Homo sapiens: one gene and its partner. The protein of the gene in region 1 purifies or fractionates together with the protein of each later gene. This does not show direct contact. Each region holds a gene or a part of one and is shown on either strand. Other genes may lie near its edges.

Evidence for each region.
Region 2: the proteins of SH3BP5 (region 1) and RNF146 purify together in Homo sapiens (affinity purification with western blotting, with the first as the bait; one study listed by BioGRID). This does not show direct contact.

The regions. Positions count from the first base shown.
Region 1 is NC_000003.12:15,256,562-15,259,757, reverse strand, and holds part of SH3BP5 (SH3 domain-binding protein 5), read left to right. Parts: exon of another isoform or gene 1-707; coding exon 708-927; exon of another isoform or gene 928-1,124; intron 1,125-2,151; exon of another isoform or gene 2,152-2,644; coding exon 2,645-2,905; exon of another isoform or gene 2,906-3,196. UniProt on the Homo sapiens protein: Functions as a guanine nucleotide exchange factor (GEF) with specificity for RAB11A and RAB25. Inhibits the auto- and transphosphorylation activity of BTK. Plays a negative regulatory role in BTK-related cytoplasmic signaling in B-cells.
Region 2 is NC_000006.12:127,286,134-127,289,062, reverse strand, and holds the end of RNF146 (E3 ubiquitin-protein ligase RNF146), read right to left. Parts: exon of another isoform or gene 2,886-2,929; intron 2,448-2,885; coding exon 1,370-2,447; 3' UTR 501-1,369; downstream 1-500. UniProt on the Homo sapiens protein: E3 ubiquitin-protein ligase that specifically binds poly-ADP-ribosylated (PARsylated) proteins and mediates their ubiquitination and subsequent degradation. May regulate many important biological processes, such as cell survival and DNA damage response.

The DNA of each region.
Region 1 (3,196 bases):
TGTGTAGCTTTGGGCTTCGTCACTGATGAGATTTTTCTGCACTCAAAGCTTCACTTTTCTGGGGTAGCAGAGTATCACATGGGCCACTTGCTATAAGGGGAAAGTGGAGAGACAGGCTTTACTGAGTTTTCAGACCTCAAAATTGTCTCGGTTGGGTCTTCAGTGGTCTCTGAACCTCTGTAACTGCCATTCAGTCACCTTCTCTGTTGTACTAGGCCAGTGGTTCTCACAGCATGCTCTTAGGACCAGCAGCATCAGCATCACCTGGAGACCTGATAGACCAGGTCCCACTCTAGACCGACTGAATTAGAAACTCTGAGGTTGGAGTCTAGTGAGCTGAGTCTTAACACCCAAGGGGATTTTGATGCAAGCTCAACTTTGAGAACCACTGTACTGGGAACCAGATGTCTAGACTGTGGGACTTTGGTGTGTCTGATGCCCATTTTTGCTTCCCTGATGGGGTTTGTTCCACCAGTGAGAGTTTTTGGATATTAGAGGTTGTCACCTGGATGGGATCTGGGGATGGTGGTGGCTGATTTTGTCTGGTGAATGAATAGCAGTTACAATGGTAATTAGGTCTTCAGTCATGTCTTGGAAAATTCCTTGAAGTAGAATGATGGGCAGAAAATGTACTTGAACCTGTCATTCAGAAAGCATCTTAAGGCTAGCAGGGTAGTCTTCACTTAGTCTCCTGTTCTCTTGATCAGCAACTGAAAAAGACTGTGGATGACCTGCAGGCCAAACTGACCCTGGCAAAAGGCGAGTACAAGATGGCCCTGAAGAACCTGGAGATGATCTCAGATGAGATCCACGAGCGGCGGCGCTCCAGTGCCATGGGGCCTCGGGGATGCGGTGTTGGTGCTGAGGGCAGCAGCACATCTGTGGAGGATCTGCCAGGGAGCAAACCTGAGCCTGATGCCATTTCTGGTAAGTCAGGGGCTCCACTGGGTATGTGGGGAGATATCAGACTGTGTGATTTGTTTCCCAAGGTCCTCACTTTCTCTGGCCATCAGTGAAAGGTCTCAGAGTTGGGCAGGCCTGAGGGCTATTTCTGGTGGGTTCCCATGTTTTATGGAACACTGTGTTCATTAAGAAGGTACTAAGTGTTCCTCAAAGTCAGGATTCTGTGGTCAAATAAATTGGGAAAATGTTACACCTTCACTCCTCTTTGAGAGTCAAAGTATACATTTGAACATTCAAGGCTGAGAAGTCCTGCAGGAAAGAAGAGCTGTAATCAGATTTGATTCAAAGCTACCTTTACATCATTACTAAGGCATGATGTGGGCAAGGGCCTAACTTTGTATTTCAGTTTCTTCACCTGTAAAATGGGGAGTATGACGCTATCTACTGTATACTATCCGTTGTGTAGGGTGGTGGTTCAGCTTACATGAATCAACCCCTGACACCCAAGAAGCACTCAGCAAATGGTGGCTCTTACTGACATCTGACCATAGAGACCTCTTTTCCCAGGGCCTCCCCCTGGAAAACTGATAGAAGTTTGACTTGGTTTCTGTCATGCTCATCAAGAAAACCCACCCAACGCTGTCTTTGCATACTTCCTTTCTTTTCCTTACCTGTGCAATAATCCCTGTCGGCTCTTTCCCAAGCTCCTTCCTCAGGAGTTAATTCCTTCAACAAATATTTAAGTACTAGGTTCAAGGTAAAGGAAAAGGAAACTATCATTTGAACAACTACTATGTATGAGGTACTTTAATATATACATCATCTCAAACCCTGCATGGAGAGGATCATGAAGCTTACAGAGGTAAAGTAACTTGACCAAGGTCACACAGCAAGTAGTGGAGTTAGGGATTCAATTCAGGTCTGAGCCCATTTTCTGTCCCCAACATTACAGTATTTATCATTTATAAGAAACCTTTATGGAATGCTACAAGGCTGTTTTTAAAGAGAAAGGGGGGGAAAAATGGAGTAGGAAAGTTCTAATAAGGAGTGGGATTGTGGGCAGGCTGAGGGAAAACCGCTAAAGGCCAAAGAGGCTTTGAAACCATGGGAATAACATGTGTCTGGGCCTTGTTACTTTGGTCTACCAAATAATGTGGCTACAGAGCATTGTAAAGGATTTCTGTTCTTTTGCAGCAAATGGTGATGTGGGTAGCCTTTGAGTGTGTTCTTTATGAGATCAGAAGTTACCTGGAGATAACAAAGGTCCCAACAGATGTTCCATGCTGGCCTGTTTCTTCTAGCAGCTCTTGCTTCTATTGCCCTAAGAAAGAAGCCTGAGTCCAGCTGGCTTTGTTTGGGATATGTTACAGAGGACTAGAACCTCTTCCTGTGCACATGAGGATGTATTTGGGGGACTGAGGTGGAGTAAAGGTCCTAATTTGTGGCTGAATTAATCTTCCATTTTTAGGTGGTGTCTGGTGACACTGATTTCTTGGCAGGGTTATAAGGTTATTGGAAGGGCGCTTAATATCCATGGGATCCTGCTGCCAGCTGCTTCCCTTCCAGCTGCTTTAGAGGCTGGTCATTCAGGCTTGGGAAGTCACATTCCTTCATTAGGCACTCACAGAGGTAGAGACTCTTTAGTCCCCCATGCTGTGTCTAGCTGCCTGCCAGCAGCAAGCACTTGTGGTGTTTGAGGAGGTGACAGAACCCATGTGACTGGTGTTCTCTCTCAACTTAGTGGCCTCGGAGGCCTTTGAAGATGACAGCTGTAGCAACTTTGTGTCTGAAGATGACTCGGAAACCCAGTCCGTGTCCAGCTTTAGTTCAGGACCAACAAGCCCGTCTGAGATGCCTGACCAGTTCCCTGCGGTTGTGAGGCCTGGCAGCCTGGATCTGCCCAGCCCTGTGTCCCTGTCAGAGTTTGGGATGATGTTCCCAGTGTTGGGCCCTCGAAGTGAATGCAGCGGGGCCTCCTCCCCTGAATGTGAAGTAGAACGAGGTGAGTAGCAGCCTTCTCACCCCGTCCCAGATGCCACACTGCCTCTGTAGCCTGACTGTTGTGCCATTCCATACCTCTGCCAGGTCTCAGGGCCCCCATGCTGCATTACCAGGTCTCTGTGGTTGTGCTGTCAGTATTGATCACTGAGGTTGTTTCCAAGTGCTGTTCTGGGGGGGCTCCTGGCTCCACTCAGCTTCTATAAAGTAGAGCTTAGGTCCTATGTCTCACATCAGAACAGTCTCCTTGGCAAGCACATAGTAGAGAGGTTTGTTTCTCAGCAATAAAGTGAAT
Region 2 (2,929 bases), on another chromosome or scaffold:
CTATCTTTCAAAAGTAAATGTAATAAAAATGCACAACATAAAATGTTTATGATCCCAGCAATACACTTTTTAAAAAATGTGAAAGTCAAAGAATTAAGTTCTAGTTCTGACTCATCACAAGAGGTCAAAAGTATTTGCTACTGTAACATTCAATTCACATTTGAGAATCATGGTAAAAATAACTTGCATTTGCCTTACCATCATGATCCTACTGTTGAGTTAGGAAAATATGGTTAGACAGACTCACATTACTTTTTTTCAGAGGTAAACTCTAGATTACTGTGTCAACCCAATACTATTTGGCCATAGATGTAAAAACTACCAAATAAAAGTGGATTTTGTGGTCTACAACATTTTGTGTAAAGTGAATTCATGTCTGCTAACACCGTTAAGTCTGCCATTTAATCCAGAGTGTTAGACTACTAATGAATATGGTAAGGAAAATATAAAATATTAACGGTATATGCTATTTGAGGAATTTTAAGTCTCACAGGCTTTAGTTTTATTTCCATACATGTTTATTATATACACACTGCCTATAGATTCTGTTTAAATAATCTCTAAGAAAAAAATCAAACTTTTCTGAGCAGGTGATTAAGCTGAAAACAACCAATTAAAACCACCACTTTTTAAGTGACCTTTGGTCACAAATGTCAAAATGTTTCCACACCCTTTCCACCCTCAAACAAGAGACAAACTGTTTTTGATAAACTCTAGTATTTATTAAATTATAAATTTTGTAATCAAAAAGAAAAATGCAGACCAAAAAAACCTCAAACTATAAGACTAGACAGCAAAGCCTATGGGAACACCATGAAGTGTGTTACAAACATTCTGAAACATAAGTTACTGGCTGTTTTCATTTCCATTTCAATAACTTTACTATAAAATAGTTGTTATTCATCTATTTTGAAATCCCAAATTCACATCTATTCATACATTAAATTATGTTTCCTGTTCATAATATCAAACATCTCACAGGTGCCAAATTTTAGTAATGGTCTTATGCCAATCCATGCAGAAAAATAAGACACAATGCAGGAGTCAGATGAGGACCATTAATGCACAGATAATACAAACACACTGGCCAAAAGAACTACAGAAGTTTTTAAAAAGTATAAAGTAAACAGACCTCAAGAAAACTGGGTTATTACTAAACAGCTCTCAACTATTAACACCCAAGTTCCTTACATTAAATAAATTTCTCAACAGAGACATGTTAGACATTTTAATTATGAGTCTATCCTTCCCATACCCCTTCCCACCCCAACTCCCAAAATGCACTACTAGGGATGAGTATAATGTTATGTGGGCAGAAATTTACAGGTAACCCTTTCAACCTTGAGCATGGAGCTGAAGACATTTTTATTTAAACTTCAGTTACTGTGCACTGTCCATCAGGCCTTCTAGATCTGACACTGACACTCACTGTTCCACCCCCTGCTACTGATCGATCAGTTCCCGATCGATCTGATCGATCGGGTACTGTCTGGTTTGCATTAGAAACCAAAAGTCTCTGTTGGGTCAAGGAGTGCTGTGCAACAACTGCAGATACATCCTCACTATCACTACTGGCATCTGATTCAGTTTCTTCAATGGAGGTGTCTGGTGCTGGTACCCTGCCTGAAGATGGTGATTCATGATCTTCTTCTCCTTCTCCCCTATGACTCCTTTCAGCTGTGTTGTCTCCACTGAGTTGTAAATGAGCAAAAGAGTCTTCCAGAGAAGTGCTTGCATCAGGGGATGGTGTTGCAGGGCTTGTTAACTGACCATCTACTGATGTTAGGGGCCTTACAGAAGACACTAGGGGCTGAACAGAAGCTCCACTCTGTGCTGATACACTGTCCGCTCCGTCAGCAGAGCTCTCTCTTGCTAGGTTTACGGTATTAGCATCACAGTCTAGCCTAAGTCCAGCTACTCCCTTCTTTGGTATATCTATTATATCTCGCTTAATCTTCCTGCGACGTCCATGTTCATTTCTCCTATATTGAACCATGTTTTCAAGATCAGCGACATACAGAAAGCCAGCAATTAACATTTCAGTGTTCTTTTTACCTTTGGAAAAAGCATCTTCCAGCTCTCTACTAGTGCGCTCATCGTACTGCCACCACCCATTTCTTCCTTCATAATACCATGCATATTCACCATTTCCTCTACTTGCTGCCTTGAGTTCTTCTGGTGACAACAAGGTTGGCTTGTCAAGGAAATCCTCGGGAATTTCTTGTCGACAAAGAGCACACCGCTTTCCAAGCCATGAAGCTCCTTTTACACATAGATAGCAGAAAACGTGCTTACAGGGCAGACTGACTGGATGAACACATGTTTGCAGACAAATGGCACATTCAGGGACGGTTAAAGAAGGTGCAGTATTAGAACAGGACTCGTTCGCTTTCCTGTTTGTAGGAAGCATGTTTATTGAATGATCAATTTCACCACAGCCAGCCATCCTAAGAAAAAATACATATAATATTAAAGTCATGTTTTAATTCTTGCAATATCTTAATTTAACAATTATGAAAACACTAACCACCTATGATGTGCATTATATGCAAGCCACATACTAGACAATGGGGATATGAAGATGAAAGTAGAGGAAAAACTCTCCAACCGATGAAAATTTTTTGTAAGCATCTACTTGTACATACCTTGGGAATGTATAAAAATTCCATCAGTGCACTTAACAGATCAGCCCTGGAGAAACACACTGAAGAACTATATAATGAAAAGCTGCATCCAGTGAGGGGAAAAGGATACCTTGAATCATGGCAGCTATTATACAGTGAAATGAATGCTAGACAAGAAATCTAAAAATCTGAGTTTTAGAGTCCTTTATTAATTATGTGCTCTTAGGCACTCAGTTAAACCATTAGTCTAAATTTCCTTACCTGCAAATCAGAGTTTACAAAGCTCAGGTAAAAATGGACAAAAA